4 separate regions of the Homo sapiens genome follow, and regions 2, 3 and 4 are each linked to region 1. The links come from fine-mapping of genetic effects on gene expression. A gene starts in region 1. Each other region holds a variant in brackets. All regions are shown on one strand. Distances are between the middles of the regions. Region 1 holds the start of PDK3 (pyruvate dehydrogenase kinase 3). Region 2 overlaps PCYT1B (phosphate cytidylyltransferase 1B, choline). Region 3 overlaps PDK3 (pyruvate dehydrogenase kinase 3). Region 4 has its middle 75 kb from the start of PDK3.

Evidence for each region. PIP is the estimated chance that this variant, and not a neighbour inherited with it, causes the effect. A credible set is the group of variants that fine-mapping cannot tell apart.
Region 2: its variant is the best candidate, but not a certain one, in a credible set for the expression of PDK3 in T cells (TOPMed, PIP 0.59).
Region 3: its variant is the best candidate, but not a certain one, in a credible set for the expression of PDK3 in subcutaneous fat (GTEx, PIP 0.90).
Region 4: its variant is the best candidate, but not a certain one, in a credible set for the expression of PDK3 in whole blood (TOPMed, PIP 0.75).

Annotation. Positions count from the first base shown.
Region 1 is chrX:24,461,417-24,469,376 of GRCh38, reverse strand. PDK3 (pyruvate dehydrogenase kinase 3) reads right to left here and starts at 4,091. Exons shown (of 11, transcript NM_005391.5): 1 at 3,816-4,091. The coding sequence starts at 3,921. RefSeq lists a silencer at 4,031-4,350.
Region 2 is chrX:24,619,917-24,627,876 of GRCh38, reverse strand. The region is part of intron 1 of PCYT1B (phosphate cytidylyltransferase 1B, choline); the gene reads left to right. Among named protein-coding and RNA genes, the nearest start is that of PCYT1B, 23 kb to the left of the region's middle. The variant A/G (reference allele first, on the strand shown) is at 3,807.
Region 3 is chrX:24,482,030-24,489,989 of GRCh38, reverse strand. The region is part of intron 1 of PDK3 (pyruvate dehydrogenase kinase 3); the gene reads right to left. Among named protein-coding and RNA genes, the nearest start is that of PDK3, 21 kb to the right of the region's middle. The variant C/T (reference allele first, on the strand shown) is at 4,468.
Region 4 is chrX:24,536,041-24,544,000 of GRCh38, reverse strand. It overlaps a transcript of PDK3 not described here. Among named protein-coding and RNA genes, the nearest start is that of PDK3, 75 kb to the right of the region's middle. The variant T/A (reference allele first, on the strand shown) is at 3,947.

The DNA.
Region 1 (7,960 bases):
CATAGGAAAACAGGTACTCTCAGAAACTTCTAGCGAGGGGGAAAACAAACAACCTTTATGGAAAGCAATTTGACAATGTTCGCCAAAATTACAAATGCACATACCTGCTGATGTAGCAATCTCACGTTTAGGAATCTGTCCTACAGATACACGCGGACATGCATGAAATGACAATGCATATAATAATTCACTGGAGGGCAGGTTGCCACAGCAAAGTCTAGAAACAACCTATTAATTGTAGCCATCAATAGGGAAAGTTGCTAATAAATTCTGGTACATTCATATAACCAAATTCTCAGAAGCCATAAAAAAGAAAAACAAAGTTCTGCAGGTACAGATATACAAAAATCTGTCTCTAAGGTATTAAGCTCAAAAAACAAGGAACAGACAAAGCTATAAACTGCCATTTATGCGAAAAAAGGGGAGGCCAGTGGGCACAAGTGGGAAGCAGGCTTTTCTGTGTCCTTTTGAACCCTCTGAATTTGGAACCATGTGACTGTAATCTTAGGCCCAAAAGAAAAATCTCATTTTAAAAAATGCCACCCTTTGGAATGTACTATTGCCATAATAAATTAAAAATCCATTTAGAACACTTGTTATTCTTGCTATATTTGCTAACTGTGTGGCAGGCTATATTTCAAGTCAAGATGGAGTTCAAGAAACTTTCATTATTTTAAAAAGCATAGAGAAAAATACTGCACATAGATGAAAGGGGGCCAGCAGATCAGACAGAAGATCATCTGATTAATGGTGCTTAACCCTGGATATGCTTTAGAATGACAGGGGGATCTCCTAAAAATACCAGTGCTCTGCTCTCCACCCCCAGCACCCCCAGACCATTTACAACAAAAATTCAGAGTATGAGGCCCTGGCCTGAAAACCACTCAAGTAAACACTTCCAAACAGTGATTCAACAGAAGTCCAGGGGACATTTTGCTCCCCCAGGGGACATTTGGCAATGACTGGAGACATGTTTGGTTGTCACGACTTGGAGTGGGAGGTGCTCATGGCATCTAGTGGGTAGAGGCCAGGGATGTAGCTCAACTTCCCACAGTGCACAAGACAGCTCCTACCAAAATTACCTGGCCTGAAATGGCAAGAGTGCTGAGGCTCAGGAACCCCTGCTTTAAAATAAAAGCACAGCTTCTGAAGTAACAACAAGTTTTAGCCTCCACTTTTGAACATAGCAAATAATCTCCTTATTTACTGATGTGCAGTACATCCACATAAGAAAGCCTATTTATCAAGGTTGTAACAAATTGTGTATATCCTGTGTATCTCCTTTCTCTGGTCCCTGTCTAGTTACTCTAGTCAAAATGTACGTCCCATTTGTAAAGTACCCATGGAGAAAGGCATCAAGTTCATAAACTAGCAGCCTGTGGGCCAACTTGATCCATCCATCTATTTTGTTTATGCCAAAGTTCTCTTGAAATATACTGAATTGGTGCCAATCAGCTGCCCCTTTGGAGCTAGCTATATACCAGGAATTTATCACGGTCCTCAACTCGTTGGCTTCATTCACTTATCCACTGCCCACTACCTGGTGCTTTAAGTGCCTGAGTTGGCCCTCTCCTGCAGTTTTCTCTAATCATACAGGGGCATGAAGCCTCTTCACTCCTCCTCTCTCCTCACCTTAAAAATATCCCACACCCATTCTGAATTCTCCAACTCCCACATCAATTGCCAAAATAGAACTGCTATCAAGAGACAGAACTAAGAGAAAAGTAGAAGTAGAGATGGCCTTTTTGCAACAACTCCCGTCTTTTAGTTGTCCTGTCATTAAAGATAGGCTGATTAGCACCTGATTCATCTCTGGGTGTTACAAACTAGCCTTGTCACTTCTAGCAAATTCCACTACAACTATATCTAGCACTTCTGTGCGCTTCCTTATAAGGAAAACCTTAAATTATTATGCTTCTCTCATGACCTTAGTGAATCCCTCCACCCCTCCCAAAATAGGTCAGAAGACTTTTATAGGAAATATCTATCAAAAGATTTGGTAGTTTTCTTTTAGAAAGTTCATGCCTCTTCCTTTGAAATCACAATCGTATAGTGGTGAGCTGTGCTTTTAAAGATCGCCTGATACAATCTACTCATTTTATTAATGAGGAAAATGAACCCCAAGTGAGGTTTGGTCACTTAGTCAAGGCCACATTCTGAGCTAGTGGCAGAGCCAGAATTAGAACATTTGTTTCCAGATACTGGCCTCACAGGTTTTCCATGATAACACTATCCTCCACTGTGGTTTTCCTACTCACATAACATCCTTACCAAAATACCTATTAACACGGGTAGACACTAGCTGCTATGGAAATCAACTAACCAAAATTTTGGCTGGCTATTGGAGCTATCACTTAAACTTTGAGGGTGGAAAGAACTGGGAGTTTCTGGATTCCTTTTGTTCCTTTTATTGTGAATTATCCTGTTTCAGTTTACACTAATGAAAGGCTGATACCTTCAGAATCTTCCCTAAACCATAAAGATGGAAAACTTGCCTATATTTATAGCAATAGCAACATTTTCTAAACTCTAAAGTCAGAAACTGCCTCAAACCTCTACAATTCTCGAGATAGTAAGTAAAACTACCAATAGCTTTTGGGAGTGAAGTTTGAAGATGCAGAAATCAACGTGTCATTGAACTTTGACTTTCATCATCATTCTCTGGCAAATTGGCTTCTAAAATTTTAATTTGGTCTCAACTTTAACCTATTCCTCTCTTCCTATCCTAGCTTTTAAAAAAAAAAAAGTATGGACATCACTTTTTGCATATCAGGTCTTCCTCAAATGTTCTACCTACTCTGCACTTTAGTTTTTATGCCCAACTGACACTATCACTGACACCCTTGACATTTACATAAAATTCATTAAATGAACAGACACCCTACGATTTCCCCTGGAGAGCTTAGAACATCTTTGCTGCTGGATTTGATTTTCCTCCAGGGATGCTGAGTTCCATTCTGATACCTCAATGCATGCGTTTTACTTTTAGGTGTTTCACAACCAGCTCCTTCGTTTTCTGGGGAAACATGATTCAGTTAACAGAAGGTGGTGGAATCTATTCCCATCTCAGCTAGGCCTGAGGCAGGCTGGGAACCCGAATCTTCTTTGGTCCCACCTCAATCCGTGAAAGCCGCCCACCAGCCCACCGGACAGGGAGAATGTGGGTGGGACACCAATGGAGAAGAGAAACGAAAGGTGCTGGCACTAAAGCCAGAGTTGTATTAGACCCTGCTCTGATGCTAGGATCCCAGACGTCCGCTCTTCCCAAGCATCTAAGGCGTCTGCAGGCCAGGCCTCTAACTGATTTAACATAACCTGATGAAGACAACAGTTCGAGTCCTGCCACTCCAGCCACACAGCAACACCTTAGAGCAGAAAAGGAACAAAATGCCATTGCATAATTTATTCAACCTCAAGGTATTTCTAAACAGTTCTTACCCAACCAAAAAAAAAAAATTCTAAAAATAAAAACATTAAAAAGCCACCCACATCTCGTTCTGAAGTTTTAAGGGCTGTGAGGTTTGTGTCAAGCAGATTTGAAGCTAACGACCGCAGGTTTGGGGAGTCTCGCCTGCGATGAGGGTCCTGCAATGAGACGCCGTTTCTGTGTCTCCGGGTAAGTCCCAGGCTGGGTGCGAGGGGGCCAGGCCCTGCCCCTCCGCGCCCCGAAATCCGAGCCCCAGGAGAGCCCCCCGGATATTCCCTAGCCCCGCCTGCGGTTCCCACAGACTTTACCCCGAAGCTGCGGAGATCCGGGGTGGCAGCCCGAATGGCGGCGGCCCCGGGCCCATGGGGACCCTTGGCCCCGTACTCACCGAAGTCCAGGAATTGTTTGATGGAGAGCGGCGACGGCGAAAAGCGCGAGTAGCGCTCGATCTGCTTGGGCACCGGCTGCTTCAGCAGCCACCGGAACAGCCGCATCCTCGCCCGGGCGGCGCACAGACCCGCCTAGACGCCCGGGTGGCCGCAAGGGCTGGCGCAGCCAAGCCGCACGGATAGGGCACGTTTGCGAAGCGCGCACCCCGGCCTCGATCTCGGCCTCGGCGCCGCCGGTGCAGCCGCCGCAGCAGCAGCAGCAGCTCCAGGACAGCGGCGGGCCGCCCGCGGCTTCCCTAGGCTCCGCCTCGCTGGGCGGAGTCGGTTGCTGCACGTACGCGGCGCGCGAGGGGAGGCGAGGAGCGCGAGGGGCACGCGGCCGCGCGCGCCCTCCACTGATTGGCCGCCGCTGCCTCTGTGACGTTTGTGTTTTGTCCGGGCGCGGCGCCAGAGACCCCCCTCCCTGGCTCATGGGACTCAGCCCAGCCCAGCAAGTGCAGCCGCTTTCAGCTCCGCCTCTGGCTGGGTTCTCCGCTGCCGAAAGGTAGCCGAGGTGCCCGCGGACCGGGAAGAGGCCAGGAGCCCGGAATCCGATCCTCCGCGCTGCTCAAGACCCTTCTCAACCGCAGGCGCCTTTTCCGGGAGGAGGACTTGCCGTTCGCTGCATCCTGACACTTAGATTTTACAGCCTAACTAGACTGACTCTGTTTCGTGGCCCAGCCCCACCCCCACCTCCCTGCCTGACTCCCAAGAGAACACCTTTGGAACACCTTTGGACTGGATTGTTAGTTCGCTGATTCTCTTTTTCGTGGTTCCTTTCCCCTCCTTCCCGCACAAGATTAAGTGACTGATTGCATTTCATGTCCCCCCACCACCACCGTTGGACGGGATCCATTGTGAGGTCAAGGGTCAATAACACCCCCTACCTCCCCAATGCCAGTGGACAGGATAATTGCAAGGTCACTGACTCTGTTTCATACCCCCCCACCCCACTACTACCATTGGAAAGGATCAAATGTAAGGTCACTGGCACTTTCTTTCATACCCCTTCTCTACACCACCACCATAGGACAGCCCCCTTCACGCTTCACCACCACTTTTGGACAGGAGTCTATGCTTACACAGTGTTGGGTATTCTTTATCTCAAGTGAACTTGAGAGCCTGGCATGGTGACATGCACCTATAGTCCCAACGACCCTGCAGGCGGAGGTGGGAGGATCACGTGAGCCCAAAAGTTCAAGATCTGCCTAGGCAACATACCCAGACCCCCCTCTCAAAAAAAAAAAAAAGTGAACTTGAACTCAGGGCTCAGTATATGAAATTGTTATTTCCTATTATGAGTGAATAAAGTACAGCTTACTTTAGCCATTTCCACCAAACCTTGGCTTTTTTTTTTTTTTTGGCAATATGTAAACATAAACATATGTAACTAAAAGGACAGGAAGAATGTTCTTTAAGGAAAGGTACAAATGTGACTGGAAGCCACTCCTTGGGTCTCTGATTGGACTAGTTTTCTCACTGAATGAGATTATTGGTGGGTAGCTATTTAGCTTTTGTGCCTTCAGTGGACGTTTATGCAGCCAATTCTTTGCTTAATAAAATAGTTGCATCTCTACTCTGAATGTAAAGAAAAGTAACATACACAGTAAAAGACCTCGGCCAGGTGCGGTGGCTCACGCCTGTAATCCCAGCACTTTGGGAGGCCGAGGCGGGCGGATCACGAGGTCAGGAAACCGAGACCATCCTGGCTAACGTGGTGAAACCCCAGCTCTACTAAAAGTACGAAAAATTAGCCGGGCGTGGTGGCGGGCCCCTGTAGCCCCAGCTACTCAGGAGGCTGGGGCAGGAGAATGGCATGAACCTGGGAGGCGGAGCTTGCAGTGAGCCGAGATCGTGCCACTGCACTCCAGCCTGGGCGACAGAGCAAGACTCCATCTCAAAAAAAAAGACATCCAGTGGTCTTCTAGACTTTTGGATTTTCAAGAACATCTTGGTCATCTTCATCTTGGTAGAAGTATGTAGACTACCATGTCTTTTCCATTCAAATTAAATCAAAGCATTAAAAAAGACATACTAACAACTTATTTAACCAGGAGCTTTACCAGAAGAGCTAAGTAATCCAGTTGGTGTGCATGGGCAGACAAAGAGAAGACCAGTGGCCTGTGGTTCCTAAAGTGACTTTCAGGTGCTACCTGGAAGTGGAGCGATAATTGGTGGCAGTTGTCAGTGAGCAGGAAGAAGCTGGATGTTTGTGGAGAGGGAGATTTTCTCAGCCTAAGCAACAAAGCGCTGATCTTTCTGAGCTTGCAAATCGCTTGTTTCACTTCTTCCTTTTCCACTGCACAAAATGCTACTTAAAATCCATTCTGTTGATTTGATTATTTAAACTTTCATGTGCCTAATTTTATTTCTGCTTTTCCAAAAGGTGACAAAGTCCTAGAAGTTGGGAACAATATGAAAGAGCCCTATATAATGTAAAATGTGCTTAGACAAGGCTAAGGTCACCTAGCCTGTCTGCGTCACGCTTATTTTTATGTCAGATTAAGATACCTGATTTATCTCCCTGGCATTTGTGACAGTCAAATGAAATAAACCACATGTAATATAAATACAAGGTACTGTACCTCCTGTGTACAGCAATGCATATATTTTTACCTAATACTTTCATGATAACTTGCAGAGGCCAGAAGTGACACCAGTGTGTTGATAAATAGATCTTGATGAACTTTTTTCAACTCCTTGTACACACCAAGGTCTAGTGCAGACCCCACTCCCAGTGGCTTTCAAAAGTGAAATCCCTGGACCTGCGGCAGCAGCATCACCTGAGAACTTGTTAGAAATGCAAACTCCTGGGGCGTCTAATCCTAGCACTTTGGGAGGCAGAGTCGGGCAGGTTGCTTGAGCTCAGGAGTTGGAGACCAGCCTGGGCAACATGGCAAAACTCCGTCTCTACTAAAAATACAAAAATATTAGCAGGGCAAGGTGGTGCGCTCCTATAGTCCCAGTTACTTGGGGGGCTGAGATGGGCGGATAGCTTGAGCTCAGGAAGTGGAGGCTGCAGTGAGCCAAGATTGCACCACAGCACACCAGCCTGGGTGACAAAGTGAGACCCAGTCTCAAAAAAAAAAAAAAAAAAAAAAAAGAGGCCGGGCGCGGTGGCTCACGCGTGTAATCCCAGCACTTTGGGAGTCTGAGGTGGGTGGATCACGAGGTCAGGAGATCGAGACCAGCCTGGCTAACATGGTGAAACCGCATCTCTACTAAAAATACAAAAATTAGCTGGGCGTAGTGGCGCACACCTGTAATTCCAGCTACTCGGGAGGCTGAGGCAGGAGAATCACTTGAACCTGGGAGGCGGGGGTTGCAGTGAGCTGAGATTGCGCCATTGCACTCCAGCCTGGGCCACAGAGCAAGACTCTGTCTCAAAAAAAAAAAAGATTAGGCCAGGTGCGGTAGCTCTTGCCTGTAATCCCAGCACTTTGGGAGGCTGAGGCGGGTGGATCACCTGAGGTCGGGAGTTGGAGACCAGCCTGACCAAAATGGAGAAACCCCATCTCTACTAAAAATACAAAATTAGCAGGGCATAGTGACACATGCCTGTAATCCCAGCTACTCGGGAGGCTGAGGCAGGAGAATTGCTTGAACCTGGGAGGTGGAGGTTACAGTGAGCCGAGATTGCACCATTGCACTCCAGGCTGGGCAACAAGAGCGAAACTCCGTCTTAAAAAAAGAAAAAGAAAAAGAAAAGAAATGCAAACTCTTGGGCCCCACTGCAGCCCTACTGAAGCAGATCTGCGTTTTAGCAAGCAATAAAGGTCTTAAAGATATGGCCACAAATTCTTTGATATTCCTCAAGAGATGGAGCTTAATTCCTTTCCACTTGAATGTGGGTTAGACTTAGCTCATGCTTCTAACAAAGAAGAGTGTGGCCAGAAGTGATGAGATCTCACTTCAGAGACTGGGGTCCTACAAAATGCCTGACCAGTACTCCTCAAAACTATCAAGGGCATTCAAAACAAGGAAAGCCTGAGAAACTGTCACTTAGCCAAGAAGAGCCTAAGGAGATATTACAACTAAATATAATGTACTATCCTGGTTGGGATTCTGGAACAGAAAAAAAGGATATTAGTAATGACAAATGTTT
Region 2 (7,960 bases), 160 kb before region 1:
ATTATCCTGATTCCTCTCATTCTTTCACACCCTACATCCAATCTGTTTCAAGTTTTATGGATCCAAAATCTATCCAGAATCTGACCACTTCTTACCACCTCCGCTGCGATCACCCTGACCCCTGCCTCTGTCTTCTTTTGCCTGATTATTACACCAGACACCTCAGTGGTTTTCTTGTTTCTACCTTTGACCTCTTACAGTTTATTCTCAACACATTAGCCAGATGGTCTTGTTAAAGCTAAGTCAGATCATTATCATGCCTTGTTCAAAACGCTCTGATGCCCAGCACTTTGGAAGGCTGAAGCAGGTAGATCACCTGAGGTCAGGCGTTCGAGACCAGCATGGCGAAACCCTGTCTCTACTTAAAATACAAAAATTAGGCAGGTGTGGTGGCACACGCCTGTAGTCCCAGCTAGTTGGGAGGCTGAGGCAGGAGAATCTCTTGAACCCAGGAGGCGGAGGTTGTAGTGAGCCGAGATCGCGCCACTGCACTCCACCCTGGGCAACAGAGTGAGACTCCCTCTCAAAAACGAAACAAAACGAAACGCTCTGATGGCTCCCATCTCCCTAGAGTGAAAGCCAGTCTTTACAGTGTCCTAAAAAGCTCACACGACTGGGTGCCTCTCATCTCCTTTCTTCTGGTCTCACCTCTGGCTACATCTTTTCTTTTTTGCTCGCTTCCTCCAAGCATACTGGCCTTCTAGTTATTCCTGGAAGAAGCCAGGCATGTTCATGCCTCATGGCCTTGGCCCTTACTGTTTTCTCTGCCAGGAATGCTCTTTCTCCACATGGCTCACTTGATCCTTTATATATTTACACATACATCAACTTCTCTGACTATCCTATTTACAGTGATACCCCCAACACTCCCTATTCCCTTTCCTTGCCTTATTTTTTTCTATAACACTTAATCACCCTTTAACTAAAATACTACATGTTTTATGTTCTTTTTTGTTGCTTGTTTATTATTTTTAAGTGTTATGAGGGCAAAATTTTTTGTTTTGTTTTGTTCCCTGTTGTATCCTCAGAAGCTAGAACAGTGCCTGGCACACAGCAAGGACTCAAAAAGTGTTTGTCTGATGTTAGAAAAATGAATTACGGGTAGATACCATGAAAGTAATTTAAAAATTTTTTAAAGCTCAAATGAGTTTTAAATATTCCATATACCTGCAAATCATATCATTTAACAGTTAATTTCTGGATAATAGTTTTTATTTTTCAAAATACTCCTCTTTTCTTAATATAGACCTCCCTCCCCCATCCCTGCTACATTTGGGAGACCTGAGCCTTGATTAAATTTTCTGCATCTCTGAATTTAAAGGAGAGGAGATATTTCTTTAAATTTATTTTTGCATTATGAACATTGCATGAATGCATTCTCATTTTAAAAATAAAACAAAATGACAGACATATATGGAATAAACAATGAAATCTCTTCATCTCTTCTCTCAAAATATTATCTCCTTCCCAAGAGGTAACCCCAATTAACAATTCAATGTGTATCATTCAAGTCCAGTGCTGTCCAGTAGAACTTTCTGTGATGATAGAAATGTTCTATATCTGCATTGCCCAGTATAGTACCCAGTAGTCACATGGGTTATTGAGCACCTGAAATGTGGCTAATGTGAATGACAAACTACTTTTAATTTTATTTAATTTTAATTAATTATAATTTGAATTTAAATAGCCCCATGTGACTAATGGCTACCATATTAGCACAGTTCTAAACTATTTCTTTTTCTTTTCTTTTTTCTGTTTTTTTGAGACAGAGTTTCACTCTTGTCACCCAGGCTGGAGTGCAGTGGCGTGATCTCAGCTCACTGCAACCTCCGCCTCCCAAGTTCAAGCAATTCTCCTGCCTCAGCCTTCCAAGTAGCTGGGATTACAGGTGTGTGCCATCAGACCCGGCTAATTTTTGTATTTTTAGTAGAAATAGGGTTTCACCATGTTGGCCAGGCTGGTCTTGAACTCCTGACCTCAGGCGATCCACCTGCCTTGGCCTCCCAAAGTGCTGGGATTACAGGCATGAGCCACCGCGCCTGTCCCTAAACTATTTCTACACAATTACCTCTCTCTTTTCTTCTTTTTCTCTCTCTTCCCCCTTCTCTCTCTTTTTACTATAAATGACATCATACTAGATAGCATGTATACATACATATTATACATATTGCTTTGTGACTTGCTTTTTGCATTCAACAAAATGTCTTAGATATAATTCCCTGTCAGTACATACGTATCTGTCTTGCTGTTTTCAATGGTGCCTGTTACTTATAACATGTACATTCCATACATAACTAAATGAAAAAAATGGATATTTCTTGGTGCTGAACCACATACTGGGCCTCTTTTTTCTTCTCTCCAGTGACATTTATTGGTGATGACTTTGCACCAGCTGCCTGATTTAAGAGTCTACATAATCAGTGACACAGTCTAAGAATCCAGTGATTCGTGTGTGTTGGGCCCATGGTTAACTATATTATCTATTTTTTTCTGTCCTCTCTATCTTCAAAAGACAAAATATTCTGACTCCACAATAAATAAGGTTTTAAAAATATGTTCAGAAACAAGTAAATATAAACCTAACAGTATGAGGCTGCTGGATTAGATTTTGTGATGTCTTTTTGTAATTCTGAATTTGTGGTTCTAAAGCTGATGAGTTTCACAGCAAAAGGCCTACCTGGAAGAAGTAGATTCTTTCTGAAGTCCTGTTCTTATCTTTTTTTGCATATCCTGATTAAAATGTTCTGTCTTTGTAAAATTCTTTTCTACCAGAGACATTCTTGAGATGGTTATAACTTTAGTTACTCTGGGTAATTCACTTTTCAATTGATTTCTATGCTTCTAACATACCTCATCAGCATTTTCTAGCTAATGTTTGAGCCTGACAAACTGTTATAGACACGGTATTAACCAAGGCTCTGTCAAGACACAGATGGCTCACTCTAAAGGTGAAATTGAAAGAGAGTTTAATAAAGGTAATACTTACAAAGGTATGGGCAGGGTTTAAGGAAACCTCAAGGAATAGTATAGTATCCTTGGCCTAGAAACAATGGGGGATTGCCATCCCCCAGGCTGGTAGGGGCAAGGGGTGAGTGTGGTTACCAGAACCTCACACAGACAGCTCTATAAAGAGGACCCCCTCACAGAAGCTGTGAATTTTGGTAAAAGGACAGAACCAACACACTGCTTCCTAGCAGAGAGGAAGCCAGGGAGACAAATACCCTGAGCTCACTCTTGTCCTGACCTCCACTGTTTTGCACGCTTCCCAACCAACTGGAAGCAGGAGGCAGAGATCCCATTGGTGCAGTCCATTGGGGAAGCCATACAGAAAAGAGTAGAGGAAAAGCATAGAGAAGGGTAGAAAGAGAGTGGATTCTGGAGAGGCAAAAGGGAAGATATTTATTACCCACACATTCTTTTAGTTAATCCTCACAACAGCTTATCCTCCTTTCATAAACAAGGATACTAAGGCTTGAGAGGTTAAGAACCAGCAATTTGCTAAAAATCAAATGTAAAAATAGGAAAGGGATATTAAATAATGGAGGTAGGATTTGAACTCAGGCCTGTCTGACGGGATTGCCCCACTGGAGTTAAGAATAGCTTAGCTTGGCCGGGCGCGGTGGCTCATGCCTGTAATCCCAGCACTTTGGGAGGCCAAGGCGGGCGGATCACGAGGTCAGGAGATCAAGACCATCCTGGTTAACACAGTGAAACCCTGTCTCTACTAAAAATACAAAAAATTAGCCGGGTGTGGTGGCGGGCTCCTGTAGTCCCAGCTACTTGGGAGGCTGAGGCAGGAGAATGGC[A/G]TGAACCCGGGAAGTGGAGCTTGCAGTGAGCAGATTGCGCCACTGCACTCCAGCCTGGGCGACAGAGCGAGACTCTGTCTCAAAAAAAAAAAAAAAAAAAAAAGTATAGCTTAGCTTAAACAAGCAACTCTGCAGTTGGCCTATCACCATCAGCAGTACTGTGCTAAGTTCTGATTGGTTGATTAGCTTGTTGTCTGATTGGTCCAGTTGTCAGTCAGCGATGTACATTGCATAAGTGCAGGTTCTAGCAACCATTTTTTTGCACTTAAGTAATATTTGCATTGTCCATTGTCCAGTACCTAATAGCTTTTGTTTTAAGTAAATATTTGACAATGTCCAACTGAAGAGATTCTATACATGAAATGCTCAACATATAATGTCTTCTTTAAAAGCCTGATGAAATGTGGCTTTGGTATGATTCTATGGCATAGTTTATATAACCAGAACTTATGTGACAAATGGGTAACATATTCACCTTGTAATGACTGAGTATTTTGAAATCTTCAATTAGGTAGAAAGAAGTTTTATTGCAACCTAGCTCCAAGTCTGTGGTCTGGCAAGGCCCTTGCATATGTGAGGTCCAGGGCACTGGGCCAGGGCTTCTTAACCCTTTATGATCCTTGCTGTCTTCTGCTAAACACGTTGTGCACATGTACCCTAGAATTTAAAGTTATATATATATATATATATATATATATATATATATGTAAATCTCATGTGCCAACCAAACCCCAAATTTGGAATATGGCTCTCTAGAAGGGCATAGTCTGTCTTCTGTGATCTTCACAAGTTCAGAAGCTTAGTTTCTATGATTTTCATGCTCAAAAGAGTAGTGGTTTTCCCCAAATCTGACGTTATTGAAAACTGAACATGAACATGAACATGCCCTTTCAAACGAATACCTTCTCCCATTCTAAAACGGTCATTCTTCACTTTAGAAGATTGCTGCTGCAAAGCCAATTCTGTTCCTGCCTTTCTTATCTCTCTCCTCCATTTCTCTATCCTCCAAACCCCTAGCATCATATTAAACATGTATCATGTGCTAATAAACACTACAAAATGTGATCTGGCTGATTTAAAGTCTAACCTGAGGCTTGCAAATAACTACAAGCAAGTCATTTGACCTACTTCATTAAGTCTGGCCAAAAATATGGTTACATGCTTTTATTTCTTCAGTTAATTGTTTGAGTTACCCCTTCTCTATCAGGAAATCATGTATCCCCTTTTCGAGGTTTTTCCATCCCTATAGTCTAAAAATCCTGAGGGTTTCCTCAGCTCACAGGGAGCCAAAAAGGTAACTGAGTTTGAGGGATCTACCACTGCTGTTGCTTCTTGCTGTCACTTGGTGTCACCTTGAAGACTGGTTCAGTGAAGATAATATCTACCTCACAGAGGTGTTGTACAAATTAAATGAGCAAATACATTTAAAGTGCTTAGTATATCGATGGATACATGGCACTAAGTAGGTACTCAAAGATTTAGCTATTACCTTATGTTATCAGGCCTTAGTTTTATGTAGGGTCTACACCAGAGGATCCCTGGAAGCATCTCAGCTTTGGCAAATGGTGAAGTTAGTTCAGTTCCTGCCCCTCCCAGAAGCCTCTATCTTACTCACATTGTCCTGAAGTTGATCTGCCTCTAGTATATGGAAGAGACAGAACCTAAGGAGCATAGAATTTTTTATAAAGCAAATGATTTGTTCTGGCTCAGAGAAGGAGTTTTTTTTTAATTGTAATCTGGTGTGTTTGGACTGAAAAAACATTGTCTCAGGTCACCGGGCTGGTTGGTAGTAGCTGGGCCTTAACCAAAGTCTTCCTGAATGCAGAGCTTGATCAACTCAAGAAGTACCCTGCTGTGCTTTAGAAAGCAATGTTCTGGACAGCAAGGCTGTGGCTCATTTATTTTTTCATTCTCCCCATTCTGAGCACATTGCTTTATACATAACAAGAAATAGCTCTTCTCCATATCAACTGCTGTTAAAGATAGTCACCTGTGCACACATGCAAACACAAACACATTCGCACATTTAGGAATTCTCTCTGCCTTCCATCTCTTTGTTTCTCCTTCTTTCCTACTTCTAGGCCATAATAATTAAGAACAAAATGCACGGTGCATATAAACCTTTTCTTCCCCTTTGAGTAACTATTGTTGCTTTACAACGTTCCCTATCTCTGTTTTAATTACCAGATTTCACACCATCAAGAACACACCATTCTTGGAAAATGGCAACACCTTATCTCCTCTTTAATAAACTTTGTGAGTAGCACATACAAGATCTCCAAATAGTAATTTATTTTAGGTCATGTGAAAAAGGTTCATTGCCCACATATATTAAAAGGTAATGAATCATTAATGTAAGCTAATCCCACTTGCCAATCCATTTATCCATTTGGGTTGTGTGCTAAAAGTCCATTCATAAGTCAATTTGCAGCCAGGTGTGGTGGTTCATACCTGTAGTCCCAGCTACTTGGGAGGCTGAGGCAGGAGAATTACTTGAACCCAGGAGACGGATGTGGCAGTGAGGTGAGATCGCACCACTGCACTCCAACCTGGGAGAAAGAGTGAGACTCCATCTCAAAATAAATAAATAAATAAAAAATAAATAAAAATGAGTCAATTTGCTTGTTTCTGTGGGTAACTATATTATCTATTATTATATCATATTATATATAATAGTGAATAATAATAGCAGTAATAATAGCTACAGTTTATTAAGTACCAGGTATGTTACACATATTATCTCTGCTTTTCACAACAGCCTTGCAAAATGAATAGCCCATTTTATAGATGAAACTGAGGTTCAAATAAGTTAAGGAACTTGCTTTTAAGCACACAAAGTCAAAAATATTTCCTGCCTCAAGTATAGCTCCTCCTGAAGTGGTAGTGGTGGGTCACTCATGACTTTCCTCACCACATCTGTTGGGCCCCAGGGTGGGCGCCTGACCGAACGCCAGCCAATCCTGGTTAAGGCCTGATTTGAAAAGATGAACTTGGCCAATCAGATTCTCCCTTAGGAATTTGAATTGGGAAACATGGAAAGAGTCAATAAGTTGGTAGGAGTCTAGGGCTGAAAGGCACAATGGAAAGTTGTTAAATGAGTGTTGTGAAGAGAGGCTGAGGAGGCCATGATGGGCCGGCCTATTAGAGCTGAAGCTGTGGGGCAGTGGAAAGCAAGCAGCGGCTTTAATGCAGTGGAAGGAAATGGAGTCAGTGGGGGTGGGACAGAAAGGATCATGTGCAGAGAGCAGCCAAGTTGGTGCAGAGCACCTTCTCTGGGGCCACATTCTGCCCCTTTCCTGCTTTTCCACAGTTTCAGTTCCAGGGTAGTCTTAAAAGAAATCCTCCATCCTTTGAGCTAATGTTAGTGAGTGTCTGTTAGTGAGTGTCAGTTCCTTTCAACCAGAAGAGCCAAATTAAAGTACATGGCTAGTAAGTGCTGGAGAGGGGATCTGAACCCGGGGTTTGTGGATACAGAGTTTTTGTTCTTGTCACTGCACCCCTTTGCTACATTACAAATGCCACTGTGGTCTACCACAGCCTATGAGGTCGCCATAATGTATCTGAAAAAGAACGAATAGTGAACCCAAGTTTCCTGAATCCTTGTCCCAAGTCTTGGTTTGCTTCCAGAGCCCTGGAGGAGAAGGTGAGGGCTAAGAAAATCTCAGATAACTGGGAGGCCTCCAGACAACATTGAGCTTCTAGGGTGGAAGGGACTGCAATGGGGAGAGGGGATGGGGACAGGGGAGGGATCGGTTCTCGTCAGTGCAGAGAATGGGGGCTCCCCAAGGGCAGGGATTATTGGTCTTATCCCTACTTCTATCCCCAGATTCCAAGATAGTGCCTGCCACTTATTTGAATGAGTGAGTGAATGGATAAATAAATGGCAGAAGTGAGTCATAGCCCCTGTCCAAATGTATGGATCATTCTTCAGTCTAGTGTCCCCAGGTTAAGGAACACATCTTAACCTGTCTCCATCTCTAAGAAACAATTGATACAGCACAGTGAATAATGTTTACCATGACTGATCCACTTTAGCTTTAAAAATCACAAAGATGATGTAGTGGTGACTGCAATCACGGCACAGTTCAAAGACTACAAATGGACAACTCTGGATTGCATTTGCCTTGTTTACAAAAACACCGCTTGCTTTGTCT
Region 3 (7,960 bases), 21 kb before region 1:
GAACCCATTCCCTGGGCTCATCTGATGATTCTGCAATAGTTAAAACTCAACTACTAGGCATGGTCTAAGAGAACCAAATTTCAGGAAGCATTTTCTTCAAGCTTCCTTGGATTATCAGCCTGTTATAAAACTCATGTGGAAAGAAACTTTTATCTGTCTCTCTATCCCCCATAGCACATATTATAGTGCCTCGCCTATGGTAGCTTCTCAATGATTTTTTCAAATAATAGATAATGCTTTCAGAAGTTTGTTTTTTTCTTTGTTTGTTGTTGATTTCTTTTTTTTTCTTTTTTTTTTTTTTTTTTGAGACAGAGTCCCACTCTGTTGCCCAGGCTGAAGTGCAGTGGTGTGATCTCGGCTCACTGCAACCTACGCCTCCTGGGTTCAAACGATTCTCCTGCCTCAGCCTCCTGAGTAGCTGGGATTACAGGTGCCCATCACCACGCCCAGCTAATTTTTGTATTTTTAGTAGAGATGAGGTTTCACCATGTTGGACTAGCTGGTCTCCAACTCCTGACCTTAAGTGACCTGCCCGCCTCAGCCTCCCAAAGTGCTGGGATGACAGGCATGAGCCACCACACTCAGTCCAGAAGTTCGTATTTTTTAAAAAGAGTAGTTGGAAAATTTCAGGTTTTGTCTCTTACATTCTACATTAGGTTTAGGGACAAATTCTTTGTACTCAGACACCTTAATTATATATCAGCTTAAATAGGAGGATAAGTCTTTTTTAGTTAATTAGTTAGCCTAAAAATAAGTATGAAATGCCTGATTTTTATAACCTTTCTGTGCTTTCTTCACGTACATTGAAAGTATCTTTCCTATGTATTAATGCCGGATACTCAGTTTAAATGAAAAGGTTCTAACAACCATTTTTTTTTAAATAATAAACTTACCAAGAAAAACATTTTGGTTTTAAATGAATGTCCTCGCCAGAGGGTTCTGTTTTGATAAGTCTTCTGGTATATTGTGTATTTTCCAGTTCTGCTTTCCAATTATTTGACTTCATTTTTTCCCTACTTACTTGGCTTCTCTACATTCCTTAATTTTGACTTTCTATTTTTATTCTGCATTTCTCAATATACTTCATCTTATTCAAATTTACCAATTAAGTTTTTCCCTGGTATCAGTTCAAAGATGACAAAGGGAGCAGGTGAGGGGGCTTGGAAAACTCTGACTTAGTGGATGCAAACAGGTCATTAGACTCAAATACACTCATGTGCATTTCTTCTGTTTTTCTCCTAAGTTTGACGATCCTTTCATTCTCCTTTGTTTCTGGTTTGTTTGTTTGTTTTTGAGACAGAGTCTCTCTCTGTTGCCCAGGCTGGAGTGCAGTGGCGCAATCTTGGCTCACCAAGTGGCGGCAACCTCCACCTCCTGAGTTCAAGCGATTCTCCTGCCTCAGCCTCCTGAGTAGCTGGGATTACAGGCATGCACCACCACACCCGGCTAATTTTTGTATTTTTAGTAGAGACGGGGTTTCACCATGTTGGCCAGGTTGGTCTCGAACTCCTGACCTCAGATGATCCGCCTGCCTCAGCTTCCCAAAGTTCTAGGATTACAGGCGTGAGCCACTGCGCCTGGCCTCTGTTTGTTTTTTATACTTTGTCCTTTTATTGGGAAGCTGGAGACAATTACTATATTTGCAAAAGGTATGATTTGCTTTGTCTAGAAAGGTTCCATATAGCTTCACATTCACCAAGACCTAGGGTGAATAGACACAGAAATATAAATGACTTTCAATGTAATGCAGGGAGCCTTCCCTATGGTGGGACCAGGAGGTAGCCAAGAGCGTTTAGCTAGCCACCTGAGAGCAGGAGCTCACAGACATATTTCTTTATACCTGGTTTACATAGTGGCTGATAACCCTGGCTTCGTTTTAATCCTCTTTTCGACTAATTTACAGGCGGCAGAAAAAATAATTATTTCTTCAATTAATCAAGTCACCTGATAATAAGTGTCTTTTTTTTTTTTTTTTTTTTTTTTTTGAGATGGAGTTTTGCTCTTGTTGCCCAGGCTGGAGTGCAATGGCACAATCTTGGCTCACTGCCACCTCCGCCTCCTAGGTTCAAGTGATTGATAGTAAGTACCTTTTAATTAAAGCAGAGGCTGAGGACATATTTTGTACTGTCTTCAATCAACAGAGACCATGCCTCCTAAAATGTAGAGTCTCCTCTGTCTGGATTACTTGAAGGCTTTCTTTGTCCATTGTTCAGCTTTAGCAGTTGGTGGGGGTTGGGGGGTGGTTTGGGAGTGGCAATAATGAGATAAAGAGCAATACATGGAAAAATTACCCGCAAGGCACCAAAAAACCCCAACAGAATGATCCAGCTCATTCTGATAATTTTTATTAATATCATCAACTAAATGCTTTCGATTAATATCACCAACTAAATGTCTGAGTTGGCAATGTACTTTTCCCATTAGCCATGTTTAAATTGGTAAAATATAACTGAGAACATATTATTTTAAGCTTTTTAAAAAAAATTTTCAACTTTTATTTCAGATACAGGGGGTACATGCGCAGGTTTGTTCCATGTGTATGTTGCACCTAGGCAGTGTGCACAGTACCCAATAGGTAGTTTTTCAACCCGCGCCCACTTCCCCCTCCGTCTAGTAGTTTACAGTGTCTGTTGTCCCCATGTTTATGTCCATGTGTGCAGGTGAGCTCTTCAACTTCTTTTCTCTAGTTGTAGTTATAAGATTTCAATCTGTTGAAAACACTGAATTTTAGAATAAGTCATTAATTTTTTGATTTACTAGGGTTAAACAATGATTAATTGAATAGTCCTTCAGAAGAAACAATCTGACATGTGAATGGAGACCTACCAAATGGTTGTGAATGTCCTTCAAAGAATCACTTTTTTAAAAACTTAGTTTCTACTTTTAAAATGTTTGTTTTGTTTCATGAGCAGTTTCTCACTGCCTTAAGAGCTTAAGAGTTTTCCTTTGTTCAAGAACATTTATTTCTGAATTTAAGAAGGATCAAAATAGGCTGCAGATTTGGAATCTGCCAAACTTGGGGCTGCCTCCACTCTAGGCCAGACCATGTTTTGGTTATTAATAACAGTGAGCCAATTATGCCTGTAATCCCAGCACTTTGGGAGGCTGAGGCAAGAGGACTGCTTGAGTCCAAGAGTTCAAGACCAGCCCAGGCAACATAGGGAGACCCAGTCTCCACAAAAAAATAAAAAATCATCTGGGCATGGTGGTGCGTGACTATAGTTCCAGCTACTTAGGAGACTGAGGCAGGAGGATCGCTTGAGCCAGGAGGTCGAGGCTGCAGTGAGCTGTGATTGTGCCACTGCACTCCAGCCCAGGTGACAGAGTGACACCCCATTTCAAAAAAACAAAAACAAAAAGAGTGAGTCAGAACTTCAGAGACAAAGAGCCAAATACTGGGGATTTCACGCACACTTTATTCCCTATCAAATTCAGTGCCCCAAAACATCTAGATATTACACGACTTCTTTCAGTCCAAAGTCCATATTATGATACTCACAGATGCTGTGAGTCAGGAATTTAGACAGCACGCAGAAGGGATGGCTTATCTGGGCTTCAGCTGGGAAAACCCGAAGGCTGCAGGGTGACTAGATCTTGGGTCTGGAAACATCCGAGGGCCCCTTCACTCCTAAGTCTGATGCTTGGGACAGACAACTGCACAACTAGGACTGCCCATCTGAGCAGCTTGGGGTGGCCTCTTCCTGGGCTCCCTCACATCACGGCAGCTTCGGGCTAGTTGGATCCTTCCACCACTTCAGTGAAAAGACAGCAGCCGCATGGCCTTTTATGACCCAGGCTCAGAAGTCACACAGCTGGCCTAGTCTGCCACAATCAATTAGGCTAAGTAGCCAGGGCCTGCCCAGACTCCAGAAGGAAATTTCGACTCCTGCTCCTGACAGAGGGGTGCCAAGGTCACACTGTAGAAAAGTATCCTCATGGCCATCTTTGGAAAATGCGATCTTCTCTGGGATGTTAATGGGGGGTTGTAGATGATTTATTGCTAAATTATATTTTAAAGCACTCTTTTATGGCCAGTCAGATTTTGTCTCTTTTGGGGGTTAATGTCCATTTTTCTGTCTTTGTTAGTCTCTTTCTCGCTGTAGGCTTCCCTCAGACGTGTGGTGATCTTTGGTTGTTCAGTCAGGTTTGGGAAGGAAGCAGGCTAAAGACTGGGAGCCCTGTGGGGCTCTTGGCGGAGAGAGCTCCCTGAATTCCTGATTACACTGGGGCTTTTCAGTGGGCGCTAATACCACACCAGCTTCCCTGATTCTCCTGAAATAGTTCCATCAGTGTCTTTAGAGAAGAACCCCCTTTTGTCCTTTACCTTGCCGATAGGGATAACTGCCTGCTGTTAATGTTCTAGAGGTCAGAACAGAGGGTGGCCCTTCTGTCTGCAGACTTTTAGTTCATTCTCCTGTTGGCACCCAGCCAGCCTTCCTGCCACTCCTGCCCGCTACTGGTCTGCTG[C/T]GTTGCTGAGGTAGGAGTCCCCTATCCCCCCACCCCGGGCTCTGCTGCACTATGCTCAGCACCCTCCTCTGCTACAGTGCCTTCTGAGAGTGTTCTAGACCTGAGAACTGTCCAATATAGGAACTGGCAGCCATTACAAGAAATTTATTTATTTATTTTTTTGTTTTACTTTTTTGAGATGGAGTCTTGCTCTGTCGCCCAGGCTGGAGTGCAGAGGCACGATCCCAGCTCACTGCAACCTCCGCCTCCCAGGTTCAAGAGATTCTCCTATTTCAGCCTCCCGAGTAGCTGGGATTACAGATGTGCACCACCGCGCCTGGCTAATTTTTGTATTTTTAGTAGACACAGGGTTTCACCATGTTGGCCAGGCTGGTCTCGAACTGCTGACCTCAGGTGATCCACCAGCCTGAGCCTCTCAAAGTGCTGGGATTACAGGTGTGAGCCATAGCGCCTGGCCCCATTAAGGGAAATTTAGATGTTCCATTTTATTTTTATATCAATGATAAATTCCCCAAGGGTAATAACTGTATCATGGTTATTAGGAGAATACCCTTAAGCTGAGGACATACATACTTAAGTATCTAGGGGTAAAGAGGCATGATGTCTGCAATTTATTCTCAAATGGTTCAGCAAAAAAGCATAAAGCATGTGTATGTGAGAGAGAGAGAGAGAGAGAGGAATAGGGATGGATGGAGAGGGAAAAATAAAGCAAATACGGCAAAGTAACTCATAAAAATCTTCCTATAACTAGAACTATTCTATTCTTTAAAAAAATACAAAAATCTCATACAAAATATGCTACTATATGCAGAGCTTCCTAATGGGGTCTGACACCCGTGGTACCCTTCATGTAATGATTTTTGTTCTTCTGATAGGAAAAGGGGGTACGAAGGTGATTGGGATAGAGTTCTTAATTAAGGTAGTAGTCCCTTGATCCCCTCTCTTTAGAAATCCTGTTTGTTTGCTCTTTTGAAACATATATCTGCACAGACTAGTGAGAAAACTGCTGCTCTGTATAACAAAGCCAAAGCAAGCTGTGAATGGATTTCTCTGTGGGCCCAGAAGTTGTGCCCTGTGCTTGGGCAATGCCCTCTGCCACTGCCTCAGTCACTGAGTTCTATGAGTTCTATGTCCTGTATCATGATTCCTCAAAAGATTGAAGAGTCCATTAGTACAATACCTGGTACATTGTAGGTATTCAATAAATATTTCCTGGCTGGGCATGGTGGCTCACACCTGTAATCCCAGTGGGAAGCCAAGGTGGGAGGATCACTTGAGCTCAGATGTTCGAGATCAGCCTGGGCAACATGGCGAAACCCCATCTCTACTAAAAATACAAACAAATTAGCCAGCTATGGTGGCACGTGCCTGTAGTCCCAGCTACTTGGGAGGCTGAGGCATGAAAATCGCTTGAACCTGGGAGGTGGAGGTTGCAGTGAGCCGAGATCGTGCCACTGCACTCCAGCCTGGGCGACACAGTGAGACTTTGCCTCAACAACAACAAAAAATTTCCTGGCTGGGTGCGGTGGCTCACACCTGTAATCCCAGTGGTAGGCCGGGGCGGGAGGATCACTTGAGCTCAGGAGTTCGAGACCAGCCTGGGCCATATGGTGAAACCCCGTCTCTACAAAAAATATACAAATTAGCCGGATGTGGCAGTGTGCACCTGTAGTCCCAGGTACTCGGAGGCTGAGAGGTGCAAGGATCGCTTGAGCCCAGGAGGTCAAGGCTGCAGAGAGCCAAGATTGCGCCACTGCACTCCAGCCTAGGTGACAGAGTGAGAGCCTGTGTCACATACACACACACAAAAAAACCTCGGATCGCAACTGAAAATTAAAACACCCAGTAAGTTTAGTTACAAACTTAACATAGCAAATAAAATTCAGAGGTTCAAGATAACATTTGCAGGTAACGGTAAATCCCTCTTACAGGCCAACTTCATTCTATATATTTGTTTAAGGGTATTCAATCCTTAAAATCATGAGAAGAGCCAAAAGGCAGGTAGGAAGACAATACAGTGGCAGTAACAGTCAATATGGTGTGTCAGGCCAGAGAGTGGAAGAGACATGATGTGTTCAGAACAGATGTCACAAATAAAGCTGTGACGAGCTAGAGCATGTGAGTAACAAGCACTATGCAGCCAAAGCCGCCATGCATCCATATCAACCTAATTCCAGAAGGGAGTTTAGAATCTAGTCCTAACGGTAAATTGGTGAGTTACAGGATGCCCTGTTGTCATGGAAGCAGGAATAGCTAATGGTCACACTGTACTCATATTTGAGGTTAACTGAGGCAAATCATTTAGTTAGCCATCACAGTGATCAAAGGGAATCCAAAGCAAGTCACTCTCAAAGCACAAAAGAGCTGAAAGTGCTATGTTTCTTGGAAAATGATCAGTTTTGTACAGCTGAGACCTTCAGCCAATAAACTTGAAGATAATTAACATTCAAGGTTAAGAGCTCCCTACCCAGCTTTTATTCTTAGCAGAAAGCTGACTTCATCAAGGAAATGCTGTGTCACTAACTTCTCATAGTAAATTCATAACCAACATCTACCAAGCACCTACCATGTGTTATGCACTATGCCATACGTTCTCAATCTCATCAATGCAACCATCCTATGATTAGCCACTAGCATTTCTATTTTGTAGATAAGGACACTGAAGTGTAGTGGGATTAAGTGATTTGCCCAGGCTCACACTGCTGGTAGGCATCAGAAATTAAGACTGGAGTACAAGTCTGTATATACTGCTTCTCATATTCCCAGAGATGATAATGCAGACTAACAAGTAGTGGTTTTCAGAAGTAGAATTATTTCATTGTAAGTAAGTGGAGTAGGTATCAATCTGATAGTTCTGAAATAATAAAACTAGATAAGCATTAGATTATACCATTTCCTGATTGTGTAACAGAATAAATTTAGACAAAACCTCAGCATTGCTAATAGAGACTATATTTGCTATAAAGAATTGCACTGGGGACAATGGTATACTATGTTAAACTGAAAAGAGCGTAGGTTTAAAAGCTCAATCTTGCTTGTAATCCCAGCACTTTGAGAGGCCAAGGCGGGCAGATTACTTGAGGTCAGGAGTTCGAGACCAGCTTGGACAACATGGTGAAACCCCATTTCTACTAAAAATACAAAAAATTAGCCAGGCGTGGTGATGGGTGCCTGTTATCCCAGATACTTGGGAGGCTAAGGCAGGAGAATCACTTGAACCTGGAGGTGGAGGTTGCAGTGAGCCAAGATCACACCACGCACTCCAGCCTGGACGACAGAGGAACACTCTGTCTCCAAAAAATAAACAAACAAACAAACCTCACTCTACCTGAATTTTAACCATGGCTTTGCCCCTAACTTTGCTTAGGTAAGAGACTTAAACTATCTAAGCTTTAGACTCTTCATCCAAGAAATGGAAACACTTAATGTGGACGCTGTGAGAATTACAGCTAACCACTATTGTGTTTAGCAGAGAGTGGCACACAAATGTAAG
Region 4 (7,960 bases), 75 kb before region 1:
GTAAAACTGGTACCATGCAAAGATAAATAATAAGCAGAAGGGGTCATCATGATACTTGTGCATCAAGATAAAAGCAAAACAATACAAGAAAAGGAATGAAAGATGCAAAGGATAGATAAATACACTCTAGAAAAAGAATGAGCTCATAAACCACTAAAACTGTAGACAAAATTGTTCAGCACTGGAAGAAATACGCAATCAAAGAGGACAACATAATGAGCTCAGGAAAGAAAGAGATAAAAAATGAAACTAGGCTGGGCGCGGTGGCTCACACCTATAATCCAAGAACTTTGGGAGGCTGAGACTGGTGGATCACTTGAGGTCGGGAGTTTGAGACCAGCCTGGGCAACATGGTGAAACCCTGTCTCTACTAAAATACAAAAATTAGCCAGGCATGGTGGCATAAGCCTGTAGTCCCAGCTACTTAGGAGGCTGAGGCAGAAGAATTGCTTGAACCCGGGAGGCGGAGGTTGCAGTGAGCAGAGATCACACCACTGCACTCCAGCCTGGGTGACAGAGTGAGACACTATCTTGAAAAAAATAAAATAAAATAAAATAAAATAAATAAAACTGTAACAGAAGTGGAAGCCACATTACAAGGAACAAGCCCTAGAATCAACAGTACAGAAAACTGAGTCAGTCAGTGAAATGGAGGATAAGACTTGAGAAAAAAATCATACAGCATGAATGAAGAAAGATGAGATGAGTGCCATCTAAGGAAAGATAACTGTGAAGGACAGATGACAGAGAGCCAATATAAAAATGAAGTTTTCAAGAAGAGAACAGACTAAACTGATACAAAACGCAGTGAGGCTTGAAATGACCATATCTAATGCTCACTGCATTCCAGAAAAAGGCAACAGACAACAGTCAATCCTGAGATATACTCCAACGAAGTTACTAAATTTCAAGGATAAACAAAGAATTCAAGTATCCAGGGCAAACAATCAGGTCATCTACAAAAGGGGAAGAAAAATCCATCAGGACTCAGACCTGTCAGCACCACCAGATATGGACAACCATAAAGTAGCAATAACATCCTGTCTCCAGAGAATTCAAGGAAAAAGGCTGTGATCCAAGAATCCGATAGCCAGCCAAGTTATTGTTCGTAAGTAACAGCAACAGGAATACATTTGTAAATATGCAAGAAAACCCAACCGAAGCTGTAATCCAGTCTGCAAAAAAGATAAAAACATCAGCTCTCAAATGTGGAGTCTTTGTATGAAAGGGCTGGCAGTAAGCACTGAATTCATTCAGACACAGAATTAAGTCTAAATAACTCTAGTAATTACCTACAGCTATCCACTTTAAGTTGCCTGTCATTTTTGGTAAAAGCTGCCAAATCCATCTGATTATCTCCTCTAACTATGCCAAAATGGAAACACACAAAAGAAACCCTCTCCTGAACGGAATTAACTTGCTCTACAGATAATTTGGGGTTTAGAGCTTACCCTTTGAGGAATAGTATACTGAAGAAATTCCTCAAAAGAGATAATACAAATCACCTGGCGTACTGTTCCAAGCACCCAAGTGCTTGCTTTGGCCCTTCCATTGACTTACCATGCCACCTTGGCAAACTCCTTAATTGCTTTGGGATTCATACAAAAAACCGATATACCTGTGTAGTCCAGCTCATGGCATTGTAAGGATCAAATGGCATGCTGTATGCAAAAGGTCTTTGGAATCTATACACAAGGCTGTAAAACTATGTCACACTGTTTGGATGGAAAGAATTCTGTATTCAGGAGCCAAAATCAGATATTCAGAGACAAAAAAAGGAAGAGATGGCTCCTGCGGATCTATCCCTCCACTTCCTTGCATTTCTCTACATTTTAAAGTCATCTCTTAGCACTATAAAAAGGAAATTCAGCACTTTCACAGCTCCTGACTTGAACTTCCATATTTTTAATTTAGAGACAAGGATGGTTTAAGAACTTAGAAAGATGTTGCCCTACCACCCAAGGAAAATGTCTGACAGTTTTCTATCTTTGATTCACCTACTATTTATGAATATTATTCATTATTTTAATATTATTTATTAACATTGTTTATTAAGCACCTACTATGTGTCAGGCACTATTTTAAATAGACACAGTCCCCACTTAAAATAAAATAGAGTAAATGAAAGAGCAGTACAGAGGAATGGGAAAGAATTTAGCTGAAAAAGGGTCCATGTCTATTTGTGTTACAACCTATATGGGGGAAATCTGACCATTTGCTTATAGGCAAACCCAGTAAACAGCCAGATTCTCTGCCTAAATTAAAAGAATCATGTACAGTTGACAAACAGGATAAATGAATACTTGGGTAAAGAGGCTAGTAAGCCAGAAGAACACAGATGTTCCTGAAACTCTTCTTGCAGTTGCTTTAGGGTTAAAGATAAATTCTTAATGAAGAAAACAAAGACAGGAGAAGCAAGGTTGTACTGGGGTCAGATGGATGTGAGTAAGCCAAAAAGCGTGCTAGTAAAGAACTACCGATTAAGTCATGAAGACACTGAAATCAATCTTTACTTTTGAAAAACACTTGTAAAGGGAAGAATGTGATGAGATTTTTCTACACCATATTATCCATATTCGGCCCCTTACATGGTACTGCTTGTGAGGATGTGGTGATCGATGGGCCTTCCTCAAACAAGAGAAACGCTGTCAGAGTCAGGCAGTAGGCAGCACCCCCTAAACTGCTGCCTCCTCTCTCCTACAGTGTATCACACTTGAAAGCATAAAGGAGTATCGTTGGAAATTGAGGCCTAGGAAGATATTATCTCATGTTTATAAGGAAGCTAGGGTCGGCTGGGCGCAGTGGCTCGAACCTGTAATCCCAGCACTATGGGAGGCTGAGGTGGGTAGGTCACTTGAGGTCAGGAGTTCGAGACCAGCCTGGCCAACATGGTGAAACCCCGTCTCTACAAAAAAATACAAAAACTAGCTGGGCGTGGTGGTGCATGCCTGTAATCCCAGCTATTCGGGAGGCTGAGGCACAAGAATTGCTTGAACCTGGGAGGCGGAGGTTGCAGTGAGCCGAGATGGTGCCACTGCACTCCAGCCTAGGGGACAGAGTGAAACTGTGTCTCAAAAAAAAAAAAAAAAAAAAAAAAAAAAAAAAAAAAAAGGAAGCTAGGGTCTTTGCATGTAAAGGACCATTTTTTTTTTTTTTTACATCTTTTATGCCACACAAAAATAATCATATGGAACAGCCCCATCCCCAAGACACTGACTCGGTCCTCAGACCTATGGGCTTCCTATGACCCACCTCTCACCAGTCTCTCAGAAGTACATCAGTATTTCTTTTACCTGATTGATTACATATGAGTTCTCTGATGAGATCCTTCTAAGGATGGAAGAGATGAGCTCTTTCTAAAGATGAACGGAACTACCCTGAGCTCAGGTAATATAACGAAATAAAAGAAAACAAGATCCAGTGGAACTAAGAGAAACAGGAATGCAATCAAGCCACATGCAGCTGGTCAAAGCACACCTCATCTCAGGGAGAAATCCCCCACGGTGGTGGGAGAGGAGCTAATTGCATCGGTACTATCATATGACTAAAGCAGGATGAATGGTTTACAAGTCAGAACTTCTACATCAGTGGACTCAACACTTACAAATTGGACTGAAACATTTATATGGACATTAAAACGGGGCAGAAATCAAAGTAGATGATATATATGGAAAATTACCATGAAGAGAAGCACATCCTGTGGAGCTGTATATAGGATGCTGGTTTCAATCCGGATTCTTCGGTCACTTCTATTCCTAAGGGTAAATATAACATCATTCCTCTTTCCTTATCCCAAATCGTCTGCTAATTCCCACTTCCAACTTTTAGCAAAAAGGATTGTGAAAATCAGACTGAGGTGACAATTCTAAAACTAAGATGAATGAAAATGAAAATTATTAAGACCTGGAGCATTTTTCAAAAATAAACTAGAGAGGCCTTTTCCCTC[T/A]GATAGTCTATTTTACAACTAGTAAAGCGCATCATACAGAAACTTCCAATTCCTTAGAAGACTACAAAGGAATAAAATATGACACAGGTACAGTATTAGATGGATGGAAGTTTGACAGAAGCATAAAAACTCCACTTCACACTCTGTACAAATTTGGTATTGACCAGGAGGCAGTTTTTCACTTAAGATCTTTGAAACCAAGCAGTTGGGTGAAAAATTCTAAGATAACATTTCGAATGCTTTAATCAACAGACATATACAAATGAATTTTAAAATAAAACCAAGGCATCAATGAAGAAGATCTAACATGAAAGTCACCACATCTCACAATGAGAATCCGATCAGATGGAAGAAGGCAAAAGTCTAAATCATAGAGTGGCGGAGGGAGGCACGGGAGAGACGGAGGGCTCTGGGACTAAATCATCAGGGCATGGCCACCTGATGTCTTCCACTTTCAGGGTCCCAGGGCCCTAGGTGGAGGTTTGGGACAAATATGGTATTTGGTCACAAGGAGCAACAGTACGATCTGCTGTATCTGGAATGGGAAAGGCGCACAGAATCCTGGAAGGACTGAAGACATCAGATGCTATGATAACAAGATGGAGAGTACGAGGGCACAAGAGCTGTAAGGAGGCTCTGTGCTCTTCGGTGACAGGCATCAATCACACCACAGCAAGATGTCATTAAAAAGTTACTACTTTAGTGGAAGATCTGGAGTAGCTACAGGAAAAACTCTTTGGGAAAGTCCAGGTGGTAGAGAGAAAATACACATTTAAGCACTAGGAATAACTGTGATGCCACGCTCAGAGCAGGTGGGAGAAAGCAGTTCTCTCTGTTTGACTTGCAGAAGGCAATCTTTCTTCACAGAGAGGACCACAGCATTCAGTCCTCTAGAAAGTTCTATTAGTCTTGATCTTGTCTCTACAAAGAAAATAATGAGAATATCCATAGTGAGTTTGTGAGTACAACCTCCTCTGTTTTGACCAGGACTTTTAGAGTATTTCATTATAGTGATAATTCAAAAACCCTTGCCATATCTCAGAATTATTTTCTACAATTACTACAGAAATAGAATGACCATTTAATTACTTATATATACTTTAAAACGGTTCTTTACTGTCAGTGAAAACTCTGGTTAGAAATATAGAGTGACTGCTAAAAACTATGAGGTTTCTTTTTGGGGTGATGAAAATATGCTAAAGTTAGTGGGAAGGGCTGCACAACTCTGTGAATATACTAAAAAATATGGAATTGTATACTTTTATTTATTTATTTATTATTGAGATGGAGTCTCGCTCTGTCGCCCAGGCTGGAGTGCAGTGGCGTGATCTTGGCTCACTGCTGCCTATGCCTCCTGGGTTTGTCTCGTGCCTCAGCCTCCCAAGTAGCTGGGATTACAGGCACCCGCCACCACCGCCCGGCTAATTTTTGTATTTTTAATAGAGACGGGGTTTTGCCATGTTGTCCAGGCTGGTCTTGAACTTCTGACCTCAAGTGATCCACCCGCCATGGCCTCCCAAAGTGCTGGGATTACAGGCGTGAGCTACTGTGCCCGGCCAGAATTATATATTTGTAAAGGGTGAATTTTATGTTGTGTGAATTAATCTCAATAAAACTCTCACTTAGAAACTGTTTTGAAAATAAATTTTCTTAGAACCTCTCATGTATAAATACCTAGTGAATTTACCATACTTACTAAAGTCTTTCCCCAAATCTCTACCGATTATTTGTATAGTTTAACAATTTTAACTGTCAGGCTAAGCATTTTAAAATTTTAAGAACTGCTTTCTGCTTAAATTTGTTCACCTAATAATATATTAGAAGTTAAGACTAATAATCAGCATACAACCTTCAGTTTAAAATTTAAACCTTAGTTTAAACCTTAGTTTAAAAATTGCCTTTAAAATAATATTCAATTAAAGCCACCTTTTTACAACCAAACCTTTTTCTAAAGATGGCTTCTGCACTACTCAAATTACTCCACATATCAGAGCAATAGTTTGAGCAGTTTGAATCAACTGGTCACATCGATGCTCAACATTCTATTTGACTTACATACAGACTGAAAATGGAATCAACAGAAATTGATATGATCCAGGTATTTCAAGCTGATTTAGCTTAAACTTGGCTGGGAATGGTGAGAGTAAGTATGTTTGTTTCCACAAACCAAACTTCTCTAAACTTCATCATTTGAGATGAGTGGCCAGTCCAGCAATATTGCGTAGCAGTCCACCATGACACTTCCATAGAAAAAAATAAACATCCATATGGATATCATTTATAACACTTGTCAGAGAAGACCAACGCTACTAAATGGTACAATACTGCAAAGCTATATAAACTGTATTTGTGTACAAATATCTTTCTGTTGCATTGTGTTAAAGATGTTAAAAATCAAGGTTTTCAGGATAATAAGAAATATATACAATTAAAATATATTGGGGAGAAACATTACAATGTTAAAATAGAATAAAATATCAATATGAACTTATGATTTAAAATATATTTTAAATATAGCTATATTTTATAGCTCTGTCTGTCAAGGAAAAGGGCCTAAAAAAGGTATAACAAGCATCCCCAATTATCAGATTAGCATCTCTAATACTGATTAAAAAGAAACAGGGCTGGGTGCAGTGGCTTATGCCTGTAATCCCAGCACTTTGGGAGGCCAAGGCAGGCAGATCACCTGAGGTCAGGAGTTCGAGACCAGCCTGGCCAACATGGCGAAACCCCAACTCTACTAAAAATACAAAAAAAAAAAAAAAAAAAAAATAGCCAGGCGTGGTGGCTCATGCCTGTAGTCCCAGCTACTTGGGAGGCTGAGACATGAGAATCGCTTGAACCCAGGAGGTAGAGCTGCAGTGAGCTGAGATTGCGCCACTGCACTCCAACCTGGGTGACAGAGTGAGACTCTGTCTCAAAAAAAAAAAAAAAAAAGAAAAGAAAAGAAACAAGACTCCTTGAGGGAAACAGTTGATTCTAGGACACAGGCACAGAAGGTATAAGATGAATCTAGGATATCATCTTGGGCAAGAAAAGCTTTCAAAGATTAATGAGTTTTGGCAATAGAACACTAAGGATCCAGCTGGAAATAGCTCTCATTGGCCAAAGGTATGTCAATTCAAGCATCAAAAAGGAAAATGACTGTTACATGCAATAACATGGATGAATCTCACATAAAGCCAGACACAAAAAGAGTATAGACTATGTGTTCCTTGTAAATTCAAGAAGAGAACCTATGGTGATAGAGTTAGAAAAGCAATTATATGGTGGAGGAGGGAGGGACAACTGTTTGACTAGAAAGGAGTCTTTGTGGGTAGAGGAAATATAGATGTAAAAAAAAAAGCTGTAAACTTAAGATGTGTGCACTTTACTATTACTATATGTTATGCTTCAATAAAATAAGTGCCAATTAAAACATATCAAAGTAACAAAATCTACTATAACACTAAAAAAGACAAAGCCATAAACTCATTTGTTAACCATTTAAGGTGGCTTTTAACATATTTCTTACCTGGAAAATTGGTAACTTGAAGGGAATTTAATTGTCCCTTTAAATTTAAAAGGAAGGAGTTAAACAGTTACCAGAGGAACTGTACTTCAAAATACCTAAATGGCCTTATTTGATGAGGAAGAGCTTTACTTTATAGGAGAATAATTGACAAAGGAATGATTTAAAAAAAAAACATTCTTTTATAAACCCAAATAAAATTACTGTGTTAATTTTAACACAGGCCGAAATGATCAATTGGGGTAAAAACCATTAGGTGAACAGCTGATGGGTAAGTATACATTTGCATAGTGCCAAAATAACACCACACAGATTATTTTCTAGTGAAAAAGGGAAAAATAACTATAACTCAGAGGGATCAGACAGCCATCACCTAAACTATGCTCAATCATAACATCACTAATGGTGGGTCAATGAGATGTCATGGGTCTCAGTGTAATTCTGCAACAGTGTTTATGGATATTCTAGCAAAAAATGCTCCATTAGCTCTTTCCTTTCCTTTC